Linked DNA regions of Homo sapiens: all the other regions are reported to be linked to region 1. Evidence: microRNA targets listed by miRTarBase, many of them from high-throughput screens and not tested one by one. Region 1 holds a microRNA gene; each other region holds the end of a gene's coding sequence.
The links. The annotated mature microRNA hsa-miR-4703-5p reads UAGCAAUACAGUACAAAUAUAGU and lies in region 1 at 4,031-4,053, shown strand. An mRNA with a match to its seed (bases 2 to 7 or 8) in the 3' UTR can be bound and repressed. Matches are read on the target gene's strand: a 7mer-m8 pairs with bases 2 to 8, a 7mer-A1 pairs with bases 2 to 7 and ends in A, and an 8mer does both.

Region 2: miRTarBase lists FAM98A as a target of hsa-miR-4703-5p. Seed matches in the 3' UTR shown: 7mer-m8 at 5,417-5,423.
Region 3: miRTarBase lists SESN1 as a target of hsa-miR-4703-5p. Seed matches in the 3' UTR shown: 7mer-A1 at 1,174-1,180.

The regions. Positions count from the first base shown.
Region 1 is chr13:51,548,569-51,555,773 of GRCh38, forward strand. It overlaps MIR4703 (microRNA 4703), which reads left to right and starts at 4,021; the gene lies at 4,021-4,099. LOC124903175 (a long non-coding RNA gene) reads left to right here and starts at 556. Exons shown (of 4, transcript XR_007063804.1): 1 at 556-662; 2 at 1,142-1,338; 3 at 2,557-2,620; 4 at 3,515-3,583.
Region 2 is chr2:33,578,420-33,585,624 of GRCh38, forward strand. It overlaps FAM98A (family with sequence similarity 98 member A), which reads right to left. Exons shown (of 8, transcript NM_015475.5): 7 at 7,111-7,205; 8 at 5,241-7,025. The coding sequence ends at 6,357. Among named protein-coding and RNA genes, the nearest start is that of RASGRP3-AS1, 13 kb to the left of the region's middle. RefSeq lists an enhancer at 5,030-5,849.
Region 3 is chr6:108,981,042-108,988,246 of GRCh38, reverse strand. SESN1 (sestrin 1) reads left to right here. Exons shown (of 10, transcript NM_014454.3): 10 at 617-3,938. The coding sequence ends at 703. It also overlaps a transcript of ARMC2 not described here. Among named protein-coding and RNA genes, the nearest start is that of ARMC2-AS1, 61 kb to the right of the region's middle. RefSeq lists a silencer at 5,834-6,034.

The DNA.
Region 1 (7,205 bases):
GATCTATGATCTAGGAATTGTTATGTGTATAATAAATCAATTCAAAAACAAAGGCCTATATTTTAGATGCAGCCGCAGAATCCATACTGAGGAATTCTTAAGGAGCTCTGCTGAAGTGGCAAACTCATTTTATTTACTCTTCATTTTTTCCAACTATACCCTGCTTGAAGCTGGGCTCCCTGTTGTTATACATCTTTAAGAAACAAAAATAAATTCTAGCATAATGGGATCAAAACTTGGTAGTCTCTTATGGTAATGAATTCAGAGATCAGTTATAATGAGCAAAGAGACTACTTCCTGCGACAGCCAAAATCATATGGTACCAAACAGACCTAAGATATTTCTCTTCCACGAATGTATGTGTGATATATGCGAAGTGCATACAGCAAGCCCTGGGAGTGTCTGATCATGTATTCTATATTTTGAGCATTATCCACCATGTTTGCTTTTTTTACACTGTGGCTTAACCTACACAAAATGTAGAGAAATCTGTATCATTTGATTATTGATTACTTGAATATGCTGTTAATGAGGTCTTCTTGTGTCTTAGGTTGGGTTTCCCAAGAAGTAGATTCTGAGACAGAGAGTTGTGTGCAGGCGTCTATTGAGAAAACACTTGTGAGGGCATGAGGAAGTAGGACAGCGGCAGAGTTTGGCCTGAGGTGACCTCTTGGGGAGGGGCGCTCAGGAGGTGGGATGACTCATTCAGGTTGTCTGGAACTGAGTCAAGAGGACTGGATCTTTGCATCTCCCACCCCTGTTGTAGCCACCCCCTCACCCCTGTGGATAGGAGACCTTGGGAGAGGCCACTTCCTTCATTGAAGGCAAGTCTTTGGGAGGCCTCAGCTGTAACCTGTCAGCAGCCAACACTCCCTGCACCAGAGAGTATGAGGGTCTCCAGCCTGAAGGGGGTTCTGGGCTGGGTGCTATGCAATGGACCAAATATTTGTGTTCTTCCAAAACGTATATGTTGAAACCCTAATCCTCAATTGATGGTATTTGGAAATGAGGCTTTGAAAGGTAATTAGGTTTAAATGAAGTTATGAAGGTGAAGCCCCTGTGATGAGATTAATGCCCTTATAAAAGGAGGAGACAAAAGCACTCTCTCTCTCTTTCTCTCTCTCTGCACTCGTGCACCAAGGAAAGGCCTTGTGAGGACATAACCAGGAAGAGAGTCCTCACCAGAACCTGACCATACCTGCACCCTGATCTCAAGCTTCCAGCTTCCAGAACCATGAGAAATCAATGTTTGTTGTTTTAGCCACCCAGTCTACAGAAATTTGTTATAGCCACCCTAGCTGACTACCACATTGGACATCACAGCAAACACTACAACCAGTAAGTCTCTGCTTGTATTAACTGGAACATTTCCAAAGCCTGTCCTACTCAGGATAAATGCACAAAAGAAAAATTAGTAGTTGACGGCAGAATTCTTAAGAGAGCAGTTTTGCATTTTTTACCAAGTAATACTTATTTAACTTCTAGGGCAGTAAAGTAAGAGAAATTGTTACTCTCCACCTCCTGCCATCATGAATTTAGGAAATGTAGAAAGTTATTCTGTTAATAAAGATGTGAACTTGCTGTTGAAGAGAAAATGTTTCTGTTATATCTGTTTCCCTGTGTTTTTGCCACTGCAAGATTCTATCCTGTAATTTATAAAGCACAGAAGTTTATTTTTCACAATTCCAGAGGCTGAGAAGTCCAAAATCAAGGCTCTGGTGGGTTTGGTGTCTGGTAATGCAGAAGTTGCTGCATCTTCTGAAGGGAAGGACAAGAGGGCCAAAGGCTAAGTGAAGCCTCTTTTATGAGTTCCTTAATTCCATTCTTGAGGGAGGAGACTATAGACTAATCATCTTTTAAAGGCACCAACTCTTAATGCCATCACGAGCCATTATGTTTCAACACCCAAATTTTGGAGGGGACACACTCAAACTATAGCAGTCCTTTTGCATTTTGTTCAGGATATCAAAAAGGCCACTTACATTTTATAGTAAATAGTGAAAAAGCTTGCATTCAAGCTTTATCTTGAAAAATGCAATACAAACTGTGAAATCATATTTATTATACTTCATATGTAACAAAATGTAAGCTATAATGACATCTACATACTTCCTGTTAGAACTAAGAATAAATGGATTGGAATTTGGGGATGTAATTTTTCCAATGAAATTTTAAAATAGCCCAAATGACATTCTCCACTTTATATTTTATTTGTACAGCATGATAGTGAAGATGGACATTTTGACAAAAACGTTCAAGGATTTTATGAACTTTTCCCAGGGCCTCTCAATCCTTTAATTTTGAACTCATTATTTTTGGAAACATCTCTGCTGTCATTATCCTCCTTGATGTTTCTCTAGTTGTAGATATGTTCACTTCGACACCTAACAGGCATGCCAGTATTAAAAATGTGTCCAAAACAGAACCCTCGATTCTGTTTTCCTTGCATTTTCTTCCCACCTTCACTCTATCTTCTCTTCTCCTCCAGTTGCTCAAGACAAATATCTAGGAATTATTCTTTATTTCTTTTTTTCTCTCATACACTATATCCACCAGCAAGTCCAGTTGGCTCCACAAGCTTGAGCTCACCATTTCTCACCAGCTCCACCGCTACCTCCAAGTAAGTGCCAACCACCTTCAGCCATTGCCTGAACTACTTTAGTGGCTTCCTAAATCGGCTCCAGCTTCTACTCTATTTCCCTACAATCCACTCTCCATAGAGCTGCCAGAGTGATTTTTAAATGGATTTGTTTGTATTAAGTACTACATTGACAAGGTTCAAAATTTAACACACTATAAAAAGAGATGTTCAGAGAAGTCTTGCGTTCACTCCTGCACTTCTCACCCCAACCCTCCGATGATATCCCTTCCACCCATATATTTTTAAAATCCTCCTAGGGTTTTTAAGGCAAATACAAGCATATTCAAATATATTTTCTCCCACCTTACTGCACAAAAGATAGCCTACCATATACACTGTTCTACATCTTGCTTTCTTTCCCTTGCCATATGTCCTAAAGCTCTTTCCATATGTATCACTACATAGAGAGCTTCCTTATTTGTTTTGACAGCTGCATGTCATACCATTGTTTATTTAACCAGGCCCCTTTTGTTGAATATGGGAGTCAGATCCATTTTTTGCTCTTACAAATAATACAACAATAAATAACCTGATACATGTGTTGTTTCTACAAGTGGATATGCCTCTATGACATAGAATCACAGAAATACGATTGCTAGATTATATATTTTAGTGTATTTGCCAATTTCAAAATGAAAATTTTAGAGGTGAATCTGATGACAGTTCTCCTGCTTAAAAGACAATCAGGATGAAAACCATTAATGAAACCCATAAGGCCCTCCCTAATTTGGCCCTTGTCTAACTCTTCAATACTGAAACTATGCCCAAAAGAGTTAAAGAAACCAATGACTAACAAATTCTTGAGTTTGCAGAATGACAGATTAAAAAAAAAAAAACACCTACTGAAAGGCTGAAATGCCCTCTGCTTATCAGATAAAAGAAATGGCTGAAATCCTTTGGAACCAATATGACCAACTGGAGTCGGTGCAGAAGGAGCTTGCTGACAACGCAGCCTGAATTTCCACCCTATGTTTCATACCAACTCCCCCTGAATTTGCACATGTGATACATGAGATAGCATGAAGAGATAACTGAGCATGCCCAAGGACTTTCCAGACTTCTGCTTTCCTTCCACCAATCACCTGCTAATCTCAGAATCCACCCCCTGAAACTTTTCTAATAAAAATACTGTTTTGAAGGCAGCACAGGGAGACAGATTTGAGCTTGACTTCTGTCTCCTTGGGATTGACTTTCAGTACAAAGCTTTTCTTTTCTCAAGAACATGGTGTCATAGTATGGGCTTCTAGTGCATTGGACAGTGAGCCCCTTTTACTCGATAACAATATCAGCTATATTTTTCTCCCTCTTTCACTGTGGACTAAGCATTCAGCTTCCTCTTATTAATCCCATAAAATCCTATACCATTTGCGAGATTTGCTTTATGCATATTAGCAATACAGTACAAATATAGTGTGTTTGATTTGCACTGTAGTTGTATTGTATTGCCACTCTGTATAAAAATCCAATCATCAGCTAGATACCTACCTAACAAAAAAGTTGCTCCTAGAAGGAAGGAAGCAAAGCTAATGTTTAGTGGATATGACTGAGTGGCTTTTATAAGCAGTCATTTGATAAATAAACGTTTCTAGGTTATGATGACTTTTAGTCTCCTATACTGCTTCAGACTTCAGGGACTCAGATAATGAATGCTGAGATAATGTGGATGTTTTATCATTCTGTAGCATGGTGATCAGGGATTCCAGAAACATAAAGGTAAAGTTCTAACCTTATAAAGAAACGACATGGTCAGTGAAAGAGCACTGGGCTGGAAATTACAAGTCCCAGGTCCCAATGCAGAATCTGCCACTAAGTAAGCTGTGAGGGCTTAGGCAAGCCATTTCACTTTTCTCTGGCTCATTTTATTTGCATGAAAAGAAAGAAAAAGGAATTCATTGTGATTCTGAACCTTTTCACTCCCCAAGGATCCCCTTTATTCCTCCCCCCATTTTCATATGTTGAGAAATTGTGTCTACTAAAATATATTCATTAGTAGTTTGTTCATGTTCTCATGTTCATTGTTTATTATTAATATAGTCATGTTCATTGTTAATTTATCAAAAATATATATATATAATTTCCAATTCAGCTTAGCATTACAAAATTGATTGACATTGATTGAGTTGATGTAATACCCTCCAAAGCAAAGAAACCAGATTAATTTGTCTGGGTGGTTAATCTTAATTCCTAAGAGTTAAGAGGCTGCAGGTTGGGACTGTCTGCATCCAGTTGACTATAAGTTTTTTGTTTTGTTTTGTTTTTACAAGTCTGAGAGTCAATGCTATTTATATTTGTATTTCTATTCAGTCCAGTGCTTGGACAAATGGTACCTCAGAGGGTCCTGTGGGTTCAGCAAAGCAGCTCAGGAGCAGAAATGGGGGTGGGAAAAGAGGAGTCTTAGGGCCCCAAAACCTATTTCATCTACAGCAGCCTCACTTTTTTCTGCTTTAAATGCTAGATTCTGCTTAAGATTTTCTTTTTCTTTTCCTTTTTTTTTGAGACAGAGTCTTGCTCAATTGCCTAGGCTGGAGTGCAGTGATGCTATCTTGGCTCACTACAACTTCCCCTTCTTGGGTTCAAGTGATTCTCCTGCCTCAGTCTCCCGATTAGCTGGGATTACAGATGTGTGCCACCACCCCCAGCTGATTTTTGTATTTTTAATAGAGACAGGTTTTCACAATGTTAGCCAGGCTGATCTCGAACTCCTGGCCTCAAGTGATGTGCCTGCCTCAGCCTCCCAGAGTGCTGGGATTACAGGCGTGAGCCACCACACCTGGCCTTAAGATTTGCTTTGAAGAAAGCGTTTAAACCATAAAAATAATTTGAAAAATATGACTTAATCAAACTCAATTATATAGATGAGAATAATGAGGCATAGAAAAATTAAATGAAACTGGCCCAAGGTTATAGAGCTAATTAATGGCAAAATACTCATTCAGTCAATCAACAAATATTTATTGAACACTGTAGAAATAAAAATTGTAAAGCTAAAGCTTTGATTTGTTCTTAGTTTAAAAACAATCTGTGAGTCACTGTATTGGATTAGAAGCATTAGGATGAAAGAATCTTGTTTTCATAAATTGGTGGAGAACTGACATTATCGTGTATGTTACTATTGTTCAATAAGACAAGGAAGAGAGGGCAGGGGCATATTAGCATTCAGGTGACCACAGGAGGTTGGGGACAGGTCAGGTTTGGTAAAGGGCTTGTTTCAATTTAAATCTATGGTGGCTCAGGCTCTGATTGTCATACTAGTGCTCTCATTAATGTGCACAGGGAAGGAGCCAAGAACCCCACTTGACCCAAGATTAACATTAAGGTTTTGTTTCATTTCCCAGATTAAATATGTGATTAGCACCAAACCTGGAAAAACCCGTGGCTATAGGATATGTGTAATTTAATCTATAAAATGTATTTGTAAAAGCCAATTCATTGTACATGTTCAACTTAATAAGTTCACTGGCATTATGATAACTTATCCATGACTGGGTATTGCATATGCTCTCCAGTTAGTCCAAAAGTTATAGCCCTTCTGATTCTAACTTTCTCTTTACAAACTATTTGCAATAAAGCTCATCTTTAGCAGATTCAAATCCAAATATAACACAAAGCTTTGTTCTTGGCCAGCACCAGTCAAGAGCCAGCCCTTCTAGGCATGGAGGATACAGCAATGAACATGTTGGGAGAGTTTGCTGTTTCTATGAACTAGCCTTGGGTCTCTTGCTTTCTGGTCCAATTCTGTTTCCAACACAGCATGCAAGGTTGAAGACGCATTCTACTCTTCTGCAAATACTTGTCGTTACAGCTTATGCTTATATCTTCACATTATTTATTCATTTATTCAACAAATATTTGTTGAATAGCTTCTATTACCAGACTATACTAAGTGCTGGGCATCTTGATATGAATTAGCTCTCAAGGTGCTCACAGACTTATGAGAATATAGACTCGTACACAAATTTTAAACCAGCATAGTGAGTACAACAGTGGGAGGAGAACAAGGTTCAGTCATAATACACAGCAGCAACTGATTAACTCCCTCTGGCATGATATCCACACTTGAATTTGAAGGATTACTAGAGGTTTCCTGGGCAAACCAATGATAGTGGGAGTGGGAATGGCATATGGAAAGCTACACAGGCAAGAGAGAACATGGCTCATTCTGAGAACCACACCCTGGTTTGAAGGAATATACAGTACAAGGTGGCAGGCAATTGATGGGAGGCAGGCAATTGATGGAATTTCAATCTAATGGCCTCTGTTTTCTCTGTGAGATGAGAGTGACAGGATGTTTTGAAATGTAGGCAAAAGCTGGGTAGGAAACTTGGAGGGAGGTTTAAAAGGACTGCTGAATTGTTTGTAAAACAGAAAGGATTGGGAAAAACCTAAAGGCCTATCAAAAGGGAACTGGCTTAACAGATTACAGTCCACCCATGCAATGGAATACCACACAGCCAGGAAAAAAGATATGTATTGATATATATTGATATGGGAAGATCTGTAAGACATAAATTTTTTAGTGAAAAAAGAAAGTGCAGAACTATGTGTTCCTTTATGTTTTATGTAA
Region 2 (7,205 bases), not on the chromosome of region 1:
TCGGAATAAACTTACCTGTTCTGAGGACTTGATAGTACTTTTCATACATTTTGCAAAATAAGCCTGTTATCTCGACCATTTTGTAAATGCCTCATAAGAAGCCAGGCGCTGTGGCTCACACCTGTAATTCCAGCACTTCGGGAGGCCAAGGTGGGAGGATCGCAACAGCCCAGGAGTTTGAGACCAGCCTGGGCAACATGGCGAGGCCCTGGCTTTATGAAAAATGAAAAAACTTAGCTGGGTGTGGTGGTGCCCACCTGCAGACCCAGCTACTCGGAAGGCTGAGGTGGGAGGATCACTTGAGCTTGGGAGGTCGAGGCTGCAGTGAGCTATGATCACTCTAGTCTAGGCCTGTCGTTCATGCATTTATTCATTTATAAACCAATAAATAAAGAGAGAGTACTAGATATTTGAACCCCTAAATAATTCTATTATTGATACTTTTGGGTTCTTAAAGACTTTCAATTATATTTTCTTTAAGACTTCCCTGGCTTTTTGTAACCTTTCAGAGTACATCACTTCATTCCACTAAATGTTACACTGTTATTTTACTCAGTCCTTTCTCAGTGAAGCTTCTAGAACTACAGTGGTCCCTTGGTATACAGGAGATTAGTTCCAGGACCCCTGAACTAATGCACATACCAATATGCACACATAGTCAAGTCCACAGTCAGCCCTGTGGAACCCACATATATGAAAAATCAGCCCCTCCCTATACGGAGGTCTTTACATCCTGTGAATACTGTATTTTCCAGCGGCATTTGGTTGAAAAACTTTCTCATATAAATGGATCTGTTGTTCAGGGTCAACTATAATCTAAATTTATGGTTTATTTTCTCATTCTTTCCTTAAACTCCAGAAAACTGGTCTCATTTTTATTCTGAAACTGCTCTTGAAAATGCCACAAGAAAACAACACCAACACAAAAACGCCGCAAGACATACGGCTATTTTTCAACTCTAGTTCGTTGAATTTCTCTGTAGCATCTGGAATTGTGCATTACTGAGCTCTGGAGCCAGATGGCCCTAGGTTTATTCCAGCTCCCCCGCTTACTAACTATATGGATATGGGCAAGTCTTCTCAACTATCCTGGCTTCATACTCTTTACATGTGAAAAGAGGGTTAATAGTAGTACTCATGTTGCTCTCAATAAACAGTAATAACAGTAATAAATTACCATTCTTACTACCAACCCTAAGCTTCCACAACACTGTTCTCTAGGTGTCCCTCTTACTCTGTGACCCTGCTCCATCTATCCCTTAACTGATTAATCCTTAAGATTCCATCCTTGGTCCACTGCCCCTTTCCTCCCTTTTTGGATGGTTTAATTTGGAATCATTTTTCTGATGAAATGTTTCAATGCAAAAATCAGTGGATGTTGATCATTCCCAGACTTCTATCTCCAGGCATTTTCTGGAGTTTCAGACTGAAATCATTTCCCCCAGCCCACCTTTCCCCCTTCTTCTAATTTCGATTTCAATTGGTAGTTCATCATCTACTCAATCACAAACCAAAAAAACCAAAAACCAAGGTTCATACTACATTTCTTGTTCTAATATACTCCTATAATATTTGCCTCCGACATAATTCTCAAATCTGCCCCTTCTATACCCTTACTATGTCTACCACATTAATTTAAGCTCTACGCTTCTGATTCCAACCTTTGCCCTCCTCCTTGAGTCTATCCCCTACTCTTGAGCCAATAATTTACACAGAGCCAAACTTGAATATGCCGTGTTATTGGTATACTACCGTACACAAAGTAGCTCCAAGTTACTCAGGACGGCATGGAGAGCCCTCTATTACCTGACCCCTGCAATCTTTCCAATTTCTGCCAATTTCCACCCCATATAAGCAATACAGAAACACCATGCTCTCCTAGTACCCACACATAATTTTCATTATTATTTATGCTACAATTACCTATGTTTCTGGCTCTGTCACTCAGTCCATGCTGAGACATTTCTCAAGCCATGGACTTTCTACCTCAGCCCAGCACAGTGCTAGAATATAGCAGACACTCATTTTTACTGAACTGAACTACAGGCCTTTCTTCTTCTTTTTTTTTTTTTTTCCCTGAGATGGAGTTTCCCTCTGTTGCCCAGGCTGGAGAGCAGAGGTGCAATCTCGGCTCACTGCAACCTCTGCCTCCCGGGTTCAAGCCATTCTCCTGCCCCAGCCTCCCAAGTAGCTGGGATTACAGGCGTCCGCCACCAAACACAGCTAAGTTTTGCATTTTTAGTAGAGACGGGGTTTCACCATGTTGGCCAGGCTGGTCTTGAACTCCCGACCTCAGATGATCCGCCCACCTTGGCCTCCCAAAGTGCTGGGACTACAGGCTGAGTCACCGTGCCTGGCCAGGCCTTTTTTCTTCTTGAAAAAATTATAACTCAATTTAACAAATACCAATCATTTTAAGAGGTTTTTTTCTCCCCGACCCAAATTCCTAGGAAACATTTTTTTTTTCTTCCCTATCTATTTCTGCCCCCGGCCTCTTTATTACATTTAGTGGGCAGGGAATGATTTACTGTGGAAGTTCTCATACCAACAGTTATGTTTACTCCAACTTATAACCGCACATCTGCAGGTGACTAAAATTGTGCAAGCGGAAAGTGAGTTCAAACACTGACATGCATACCTGTTTGAATCAGTGATTTGAACCCTAGGAATACATTAGTGTATACAAATATGGAAACCACAGGGAAAAAAAAAGCATTTCTAGTTATTACTATGATAATGAAGAATGAGAAAAACAAGAAAAACAGGAAAATAAGAAGTCATAAAATGCTAAGTATTCTGTGATGAATGTACTTTTTCATTCAGGTAAACTCATTTTTTTATTTAGGTAAAATACAAATAAATACCTAAATTTTATTTAGGTAACCCTCTCTGTTAAAAAACAAATGGATCAAATGCTATCCAAATTACCTAAAGTGGGAGGCGGGGGTATGATTAAATAATATAAACATATTTAAAAACTATTTTCAAAAGGATGTAATATAGGTAGACAAAGTATCCAGAAAGATACAATGGGCACAACCTAAAAATATTTAAGTCTAAGGATGGAGGTAATCTGGGCACTGGGAAATCAATTAAGTATATATAGAAATGATTCAAATGCCTTCCCTCAGCAAGAATTTGCCTATTCTATGTCTACCACAGTTGGACACTAGATTAGTTTGGATCTACAGCAAGAAATAAAAATGATAGTGGTATATCTTTAATAGTTTTCATAGAGAATACTGACATCCTATTCTAGTTCCTAGTAGTAGGAGGAAACAGAACATTAACTAAAGGTACTGTCTGTCTCACTGTATCCGTTTTAAGAGATAACAGTTTAAGATATCATGTTAAAAATTCTCTCCTAATATTTTTCGCTTGTTTCTCCAAGAAATTCTCATATGCCCTATATTCCAGTAAATCATTATTTACAAGTTAAGGTTAAGAATGCATATAAGATCAAAAGATACTCTCTATACAAAACCTAAGAACTTTAATATAACAATAAAACTAACTGGTGGTTTGAAATATCCTGTTTCTAGAGAACTTGATCTATGTTCAAGAGAAAAAACTCAATTCTTTTATGGTTTCAGAATGGGGAGAGGCGGGGGAGGAACAGCAAACGCTGGTAAGGTTCCAGAGAAAAGGGAACACTTATACACTGTTGGTGGGAGTGCAAATTAGTTCAACCATTGTGGAAATCAGTATGGCGATTCTTCAAAGAGCTAAAAGCAGAACTACCATTCGGCCCAGCAATCCCATTACTGGGTATACATCCAGAGGAATATAAATCACTCTACCATAAAGACACATGCACGCATATATTCACTGCAGCACTATTCACAATAGGAAAGACACGGAATCAACCTAAATGCCCATCAATGACCAACTGGATAAAGAAAATGTGGTACATGTACACACCATAAAATACCATATAGCCATAAAAAAGAATGAGATCCTGTCTTTTGCAGGAACAAGGCTGGAACTGGAGGCCATTATCCTTAGCAAACTGACACAGGAACAGAAAACCAAATACCACATATTCTCACTTATAAGTGGGAGCTAAATGATGAAGACGCATGAACACAAAAGAGGGAAACAACAGATAGGGGTCTACTTGAGGGTGGAGGGTGGGAGGAACTAGAGGAACAGAAAAGATAACCTTCGGGTGTTGGGCTTAATACCTGGATGATGAAATAGTCTGTACAACAAACCGCTGTGACACAAGTTTACCTGTATAACAAACCTTCACATGTACCCCTGAACATAGAAGTTTTTTAAAAAATAATAATGTTGGGGGAAAATCTAGTTTGAAGCAGGAGCTGCAGATTTCAGAACTATCAGGGCGAAATGTATCATTTGTGTTCTTACATCCTTATATTCGAAAAAGCAATCTATTAACCGTAAAGATAAATCAAAATATTTTTCAAAAGAATGAAACCTGTATTCATTAGCTATATTGTGGAGTCTGAGGCTACAAAACAGATCAAAGCAAATACTAAATATAAATACATCCTAAGATATGATACATTTAAAATATGAAACCTTGACAATTTTAATAGGAAATCCTATATAAACATAATTACTTAACAGTTTAAAGAAACCAACACAACATTCAAGACAACTTAAAACCTTAACTTACTTTAATGATAAAACACTTGAAATTGTCTTCAAATTTGAACATTTTAAAATAATTGTAAATGTTAGCTGAAAAATAAACAGGTAAAGTTAAAAGGATCAATGTGGGTTTTCAAAGATGGTTTTAGTATTAGAAGAATGTGCTTATCTCAGTAGCAAGTAGATTATTTTAAATGGCATGACATGAGTTGATTCTTTAAAAAAGCCCAATTTAGTAGAAAGGAAATACAATTTCTCTTTTGATAAACATATTTATATTTTCAGTTACTTCCTTTTTTAAAAAAAGTCCCCCAATCTTAGGAAGAATGGAGAAGCAAATAACAAAAAAACCCTAAAAACATTTTTGCCTAGTATGTGTAGCAACAGCTACACCCAGTGGCCAGAGATGAGTGGTGACGGTTTCTAGCTATATTATTATAAAAGGAAAACCTGGAAAGAGCCATTTTTCCATTTATTTAAGGTTTTAGGATAAAAGTCACCTTTCACTAAAATTAGGTTTTAAGGAAATACTCAAGAATCTTTGGGAACAAAAGCCTTAGCTCATCAGCTTGACGCAAGAGTCCAGAATAATTCAGTAGCTAAAATAAAACTCAAACCAAAGAGAGAACTTAACAGATACTTTATTGCTCACCTTTCACACAAAGCACACCTCCAGCCATTTTCTTTCACAGCTTGACAATGTTTACATGTACAAAAACCCAGCAAGAAGCATCATGTCATGTAGATTTCAGTAAGGGAGAATGTAAAACATCAACTCAGCCAGGCTTTTGTTTTCTGCAGCAATAATAAAGGGCCTCCTGCACTTAGCAAAAATCTGTCTTAACTTTGTAGTGCATTTCTTCCATTACAAAAAAAGTTACCTGCTTAAAGCAAACTAACTTGTATTTGCTGAGCCAGTGGTATTAACTCATGCATAAAACAAATTTCGGTTTGCTATTTCTTCTAGCAAATTTCAAGTAAAAATAAGGTTGAAGGAGGAATTTGTTTTGGATGGATGCAGGTCAGTTTGAATTGCTATACTTAACTAAATGCCTACATGTACTATAGCTTCACAACTTAGTTTGCTTTTATAATCTTTATGGATTTTGGCCGTGTTCAAGGTTTTCAGAGTTGAGCATATGATACAGTATTCCATCAACAAAATAAGGCTACTGAATGTGCTATCTGCAAAAGAGCTCATTTAATAGGAACTGACCTAAAAGTTCCATCATGAAGCACACGTGGCATAAAAGTCAACCGGGGGGCAGAACTGTGCTTGGAAAATAGGCATTGGAATACTTTAAGCAAAACACATATAAATGGTTATTCATATGAGGAAGGTTTCCTAGTAGTAAATCTAAAAAAGTCTAGGTGAATCCTCATTTTCAAAACTGCATATTGAAAACATGAAAACTACTTATTCAAGTAATTTCTTCAAAAAAGTTTGCATGTTCTGACTGTGGAATTAGTCTACTGGGCAATTAAAGGCAATTTTAACCACCTTTTAAAAAATTTTTCATAGAAAGGAGAGATGTTATGTGTTTCTCAAATAAACGGCATTATGTAAGTCCAATAAAAAAATCTAACAGAATTGAATGAAGACCTACAAATGCTTATGCCAAGCAGGAATCTGCCTGCCACCTGTGGTCTCACATTAATTCAAAATAGGTGCTGAATTCAGGATTCTGAAACTAAGTTTCTATTACTTGAGCTCTAGCAAAATGTAAGGTTCGGTAGCCTCAACTAGTGTAATGTCTTCCCTGTCCAAATCCAGAATGATTATACTGATAACCTCCATGCTGGAAATGCTGTTCAAATTGACCCCCTTGGTGATAATTCTGGCTCCCTCTTCCTCCCCAGCCTCCTCCCTGGCCTGCACGACCACCTCGGCCTCCACGACCACCTCGCCCACCACGACCACCACCACGATCACCATGGTGCCCGCCATCTTGGTATCTATTGTCCTGCTGGTAGCCACCACCCTGGTATCCACTTCCTGTATATGAAGAAGATGTTTGGAAGCCACCATAACCTCCGCCTTGATAGCCACCACTGCTGTGGCCACCATGATAGCCACCTGGCTGGAAACCTGAATCTCGATAACCACCATCTTGGTAGCCACCTCCTCCACCACTCCCTCCATCTGTCCAGCCTCCTTGATGCTTATTTCCTCTTCCTCCCCCTCGGCCACCATGGTCATAGCCACCACGTCCACCTCTCCCGCCTCCTTGTTCATGACCTCCTCGTCCTCCGTATGAGGAATGTTCATAGCCACCTCTCCCTCCTCCTCGGCCTCCTGTTTGCTGCTGGGGGCCATCTTGCCTCTTCTGCCACGGTGGCATCTCTGGGGGTGGAGGTTCGATTTCATTGGGTCTACCACCTCTGTCAGGCACCCTGCCCATCAACACCTACAGAATAGGAAAGATATTTTAAACTTTTATTTTATGAACAGAAATAAATGCATTTGGAAAAAATTAAAGGTACTCTAATCACCTTATTGATGGCACAGGCAGTCTTTTCTCTTATAGAGCCGCTGCTTGTCCTTAAAATCTTTGACAAGTCCTGCCTTGCAGCCAAAAGATGGGCAA
Region 3 (7,205 bases), not on the chromosome of region 1:
TTGAAACATCTTTATAGAAATTACTGAATAATGATTTGGCAGGGGAAGTTGCTATTCTGATAAAACAGTGTCTAGATTTTCTGACATGTAACAAACCTCCAAGAAACATGATAAAATATAAATGAAAGCTCAATCTATCCAAAAAGAATATTAGGCCAGGTATGGTGGCTCACACCTGTAATCCCAGCACTTGGGGAGGCCAAGGCAGGCTGATCACTTAAGATCAGGAGTTCAAGACCAGACTGTCCAACATGGTGATACTAAAAATACCAAAAAATTAGTTGGACATAGTGGCATGCACCTGTATTCCCAGCTACATGGGAAGCTGAGGCATGAGAATCGCTTGAACCCAGGAGGTGGAGGTTGTAGTGAGCCAAGATCGTGCCACTGCACCCGAGCCTGGGAAAGAGTGAAAGTGTGCATCAAAAAAAAAAAAAAAAGATAGCTGCTGTTTTGAGAAATTTATAATCTGTTCAACAAACCCAAGGCTAAGTTATGCTGTACTACATAGGAAGTGTAGGAAGTGTACTTATTTTATGTGTTCATTAGATTCACTGAAAAACTGATTGTGAATGCTTGTAACCCTTCCTTATATGATGTTGTATTTTATATTCAGGTTCATGTTAATCTGCTTCTTATAGAAGCTAGGATGCAAGCAGAACTCCTTTATGCTCTGAGAGCCATTACCCGCTATATGACCTGATGCCTTTCCTTCATTAAAGATGATTCTGGAATGATCAGCAGATATAGTCTACAAGGGGGAAGGTACTAAGCCCCAGGACCAATGGTAGACAAAATAATTCAGAAATCCATTGTGCCATGATTCCTTTAGTTTCTGCTATTTTTCTGTGGAAAACCACTGCTGGCACAAGCAGTGACTGTTTGGCAGCTTCAAGTTTAGAGCTGTGAAGACAGGCTGCCATTCACAGTATTTTGCTTTTTGACAGTACAAGATGCTGTGTAACTGTTTTAATACAGCAAATAGTAACTCTCCAAATCCTGTTGCTTTTATGTTAAATAAGATAACAAGAATTGGAGCATGCAAAGAATGGGACTTGGATAATGACTTAAGCTTTATATGTAAAGAATTTTAGAAGATCTTGGTGCTGCTATTCCTGCTGGAGGAATGAATAGATGGCTGTTTCAGTTAAGCTATTAGTAATAAAAGTGAACATTGCTACTATCTGAGCCTACATACATAACTTGTGTGATTTCAAATTAAACTTGCATTATGTGTTAATTTTCTTGCATCTAAAAAAGCATAGAATTCCTACTCACACAGCTCAGCAACAACCATTTTGATGGTAACAGTTAATTTCTTTCATTAGTTTTTTAAATTCAGGGTTCTGGATATTAAATTAAAATGGCATTCTTAAAGATTTTCTTCAAAAAGCAATCCTAAATGAAAGTGTGTAAATTATAAGAAGCTGGCGATCTTTTGATATGCTGTTTCACAGGATCCTGACACTGGAGGGCAGCTGTCTTGTGCATTACTTGTGTTTCCAGCACCAAAGTTGTGGGACATGTTGCTGTAGACTGCTGCGCAGTCCTGGGTGCATTCAGTCTCTCTGCCTCTGCCTGCCTCCTGGTCCCCACTTTAAAGGCTGTGCAGCTCCTTAAATAATAAAGCTGGAAAATATTTTTAGTCGGGTTATCAAATTTGATTTACAAAAACGCTAACTTTGTTTGAAATGCAAACAGGTTTGAAAATATGTATTAAGTACTTTGTATTCTGGAAGCGTGAATTGCTTTTGAAGTCTGTCAGTATTACTGGTATTTTTAAATAAAGAAGAATTTTTCTCCAATTTTATTTGCTGTCTCAATCTCTTAAAAAATCATGACTTCACTATTAGTAATAATTTTGAGTTTCTATCTACTTTCATAAGCCAAGTACATTCACACTTAAATGGCAAAACAACACTTGAAGCCATTTTGAAACATACAAAGAGGAGTGGACTTTCTTTAGAATCTTATCTGAGACCATTTTTATCTTGGAAATGACTGGTATGGCCCTATGCCTGCTCTCTTTTCAACTGTTTTAGAGTTCCAATAGAATTTTAAGAATTACTAAAAAGAAGGATTCATTAGGGAGAGACTACAGAACAAAAAATGACACTCATCAGACAAGTAGAAATAGCTCTAAGTTTAACTGAAGCTGTTGTGATGATAACTCTGTTAGTTACTCCTCAAAACATTTATTGAGCTCAATCTAGTGCCTGCCTACAAATGTATGGGGTAGTGTGGAAGTAGGGGTTGGGAAGGATCAATTTTGAACAGAGGTGGTACCTGTCCTCAAGGATATTTACTCTCATGAGAAGACAAGACTATAACCTTAGCTAGGAATAGAGTATTATTATCTTCAATATGTTTTATATTTAAAGAAACTTACTTATAAGTGCATTACTCATTGAATATGCATCATGCCTTTGTCCTCTTCTGCCTGCTGCTGAGTTCTCTCACCAGAGCAATACAATTGAACCCAAGAAGATAGTTAAAATTTTACTTATCCCATTTCTGCTCTTTGTTCCTCCTCTTGAAAATACAAAATTTCTAGTAGAGATTCTAATCAGCAGTAGAGTGATCACAAAACAAGATCAACTAGAATGCATTTAGTCCACTGGAACTTATAATCACTTAGAAATTGAAATCAAAATTTTAATGAGTTAAAAAATATGTTTATACCTAAAGTAATAAAAGTGCATGTGATACAAAGTTAATGTTTCAATGCCTTCCATTTAGCAGGTGCTTCCTGTTGGAGTGTTTTCTCAAAACTAAACACACAGGATTTCTAATGTTACTATATAATCTTTGAAACCAGTAGTTTCCAAAATAATTAGGGAAGGTACATTACACTGGGGATATCAAAACCTTCCCCAACCAGAGGAAAATTTTCTTCTAAAATAATCATGAGAAGATTTCTGGTTGAGGGTCCCAGGATTCAAGAGTTAAAATCTTGAGTTGTTTTGGCCGTATTTGGGAAAATTTTTTATTAGGCCAAACTTTATCATCTCTAAGAATGAGATTGATTTTGATACAGACCACCAGGAGATAAGTAGATAAGTAAAACTTGTTGGATAAGCACTTTTTATCAATATACTCTGAAATTTTATTAGCATATTCATATATGTGAATATCATACATGAATCAGAAATGTTACTAGCATATTTGTATATGTGAATATCATATATGAATCATCATACTAGTTTTTTGCTAACACTGGTAGATGGGAGTAATGTCAGCAAGATGATGGACTTGGGAACTCCACGTCCTCATTCTCCCAGAGACGCTGAGTTAACAATATATGGGCCAGAATATCTTTGTGAGAACTCTAGAAACCAATTGGGAAACTGCAGCATTTAGGCAAATGCAAAGCCAGGAAAAGGCCGCACCAAAAGGCTAGGAAAGTTTGTGGATTTTGCTCACCCTAGCTCTTCCCCAGCAGAGGATGGTGTGATCAAGAGGAAGCATAAATTCAGCAAAGTTGTAGGATACAAAGTCAGCACACAAAAATCAGTTGTATTTCTATACACTAACAATGAATGATCCAAAAAAATTTAACAATTCCATTTACAATAGGATCAAAAAGAATAAAATACTTAGGAATAAACCTAACCAAGGGGATATGTGATGGCTGAATGTTTGTGTCTTCCCCTACATTTGTATGTTGATGTATGTTGTATGCTGAAATGTAATCCTCAATGTGGTGATATTAAAAAAGTAGGCCTTTGGGAGGTGATAAGATCAAGAGGGCTCTGCTCTCATGAATGGGATTAGTGCCCTTTAATAGAGGTCTGGGGAGCTCCCCTTCTACCATGAAAGGACACAGCTAGAGTGTGCCATCTGTGAGGAAGAAAACACTCACTAGGCACTAAATCCTTGATATCGGACTTCCCAGCCTCCAAAACTGTGAGCAATAAATTTCTGTTATCTATAAATTACCCAGTCTAAGGTATTTTGTTACAGTAGCCTGAACAGACTAAGACAAAAGACTTACACATTGAAAACTAAAGCAGCAGTCCCCAACCTTTTTGGCACCAGGGACTGGTTTCATGGAAGACAGTTTTTCCATGGACCCAGGGTGGACGGTGCAGTGGGGGATGGTTTCAGGATAAAACTGTTCCACCTCAGATCATCAGGTATTAGATTCTTACAAGGAGTGCACAACCCACATCCCTCACATGCACAGTTCACAATAGGGTCAAGCTCCTATGAAAATCCAGTGCTGCAGCTGATCAGACAGGAGGCAGAGCTCAGGCAGTAATGCTTGCTTGCCCACAACTCACCTCCTGCTGTGCAGCCAGTTCCTAACAGGCCACAGACTAGGACTGGTCCATGGCCCATGGGTTGGGGACCCCTGCTGTAAAGCATTACTAAGAAATTAAAGACACAAATAAATGGAAAGACATCTCATGGTCACCCAGAGTGACCTGTAGATTCAATGCAATCTCTATCAAAATCCCAATGGCATTTTTCACGGAAGTAGAGAATTCCATGCCAAAATTCATCTAGAATCTTCAATGGACCCTGAATAGCCAAAACAATCTTGAAAAAGAACAAAGTTGGAGGTCTCACACTCCCTGATTTCAAAACATATTGCAAAGCAACAGTAATCAAAATAATGTGGAACTGGCACAAAGTCAAACATACAGGCCAATGGAATAGGGTCCAGAAATAAATTCTCACATATATGGCCAAATCATCTTTAGCAAAGGTACCAAGACCACTCAATAAGGACAGGACAGTCTCTTTAACAAATGGTGCTAGGAAAACTAGATATGCACATGCAAAAGAATGAAGTTGGACCCTTATATATTAAAAAACTCAAAGACCTAAATGTAAGACTGACAACTGTAAAACTAGATGAAAACACGGGGAAAGTTTCACAACATTGGATTTGGCAATGATTTCTTAGATATGACACAGAAATTATGGGCAACAAAAGAAAAAAAGACCATTGGAATTACATCAGACTTAAAAATGTCTGTGCATCAAAGGACATAATCAACAGAGTGAAAAGGCAACCTATGGGATAGGAGAAAATATTTACAAATCATATATTTGATAAGAGGTTAATATCCAGAATATATGAAGAATTCCTACAACTCAAAAAACCAAATAACTAAAAAATGGGGCTGGGAGTGGTGGCTCATGCCTGTAATCCCAGCAGTTTGGGAGGCCGAGGCAGGCAGATCATGAGGTCAGGAGATCGAGACCATCCTGGCCAACATAGGAAAACCCCCGTCTCTACACAAAAATTAGCTGGGCATGGTGGTGTGCACCGGTAACCCACTGGGATTACTCTGGAGGCTGAGGCAGGAGAATGGCTTGAACCTGGGAAGCGGAGATTGCAGTGAGCTGAGATCGCGCCACCGTACTCCATGCACTCCAGCATGGTGACAGAGCGAGACTTCATCTCCAAAAAAAAAAAAAAAAAGAAAAGTCCAAAGACTTGAATAGACATTTCTCCAAAGATGATAATACAAATGACCAACAAACAAAAATTATGAAAAGGTGCTCAGCCTGACTAATTATAAAAAATGTAAATCAATATTACAAAGACACATTACCTCACACTCATCAGGGTGGCTACTATTTTTAAAACTCCCAAAATAACAAGTGTTGGTGAGGATGTGGGGAAATTGGAACACTTATGTGGCATTGGTAACAATGTAAAATGATAATCACCACTTAAACACGATGGAGGTTCCTCAAAAAGTTAAAAATAGAATTCCCATATGATACAGCAATTCCACTTGCTGTGGACTGAATATTTGCATTCCCCCAAAATTCACATGTTGAAGCCCTGTGGTCTTTGGGAAGTAATTAGGTCTTGAGGGTGGAGCCCTCATGAGTGGCAGTAAACCCTTATAAGGAGAGACAGGTGAGAGATGATCTCTCTCTCCACCATGTGAGGATAGAGCAAAAAGGCAGCCCTCTGCAAACCAGGAAGAGGGCCTTGACCACAAACTGAACTGGCCAGCACCTTGACTTTGGACTTCCTAGTCTTAAGAACTGTGAGGAATGAACTTTTGTTAAGTCACCCAAACTATATTTTTTGTTATCTCAGCTTGAACTAAGACATCACTTCTGAGTATATACACAAAAGAACTGAAAACAAGATCTCAAAGAGAGATTTGCAAACCTATATTCATGGCAACATTATTCACAATACCCATGATATGGAGGCAACCCAAATGTTCATTGACAGATGAATGGATAAACAAAATGTGGTATACTCATAGAATGGAATATTATTCAGTCTTAAAAAGGAAAGAAATCAGCAGGGCACAGGTGGCTCACACCTGTAATCCCAGCACTTTGGGAGGCTGAGGCAGGTGGATCACTTGAGGCCTGGAGTTCAAGACCAGCCTGGCCAACATGGTGAAACCCCATCTCTACTAAAAATACAAAAATTAGCCAGGCATGGTGGTGCATGCCTGTAATCCCAGCTACTTGGAAGGCTGAGCAGGAGAATCACTTGAACCCGGGAAGCGGAGGTTGCAGTGAGCCGAGATCATGCCATTGCACTCCAGCTTGGGTAACAGAGACTGTTCTAAGACTCTGTCTCAGGGAAGAAAAAAAAAAAAAGTAAGGAAATCCTATCACAGGCAACAACATGGATGAACCTTGATAGTATTATGCTAAGTGAAATAAACCAGTCACACACACACAACTATTGTATGGCTCCACTTATATAAGATATCAAGTAGTCAAATTCATAGAAATGGAAAGTATTAATAGAATGATGGTTGCCAAGAGCTGGTGGGGGTGAAAATGGGGAGTTGTTTGGTGCGTATAGCGTCAGTTTACAAGATGAAAGAGTTCTAGAGATCTGTTGCAGAACAATGTGAATATACTTAAACTACTGAACTGTACACTTAAAATGGTTAAAATGGTAGATTTTACGTGTTTTTTTAATCACAGGTTTTGTTTAAGTAGATGGTTCCAAATGGTCCAGCTTATATGTGGGTCTGAGGGGAGCAGCTAAGTATGGAAGAGAATAGGTATAATGGGATCCCACCATGAGTTACTATATATTAGTCATAAATATGAAGGGGGCTGTTTGGCGAGGGGAGAGTTTGACTTTTTTTTCCACTAAAAGTAGAATAAATAGCTTGCTATGGATGAAATACATTATATCTGTGAATGTTTTAGATAAATTAGCCCCTGTGACTTAAACTGATTTCATCTGTTGGAGTGAATCT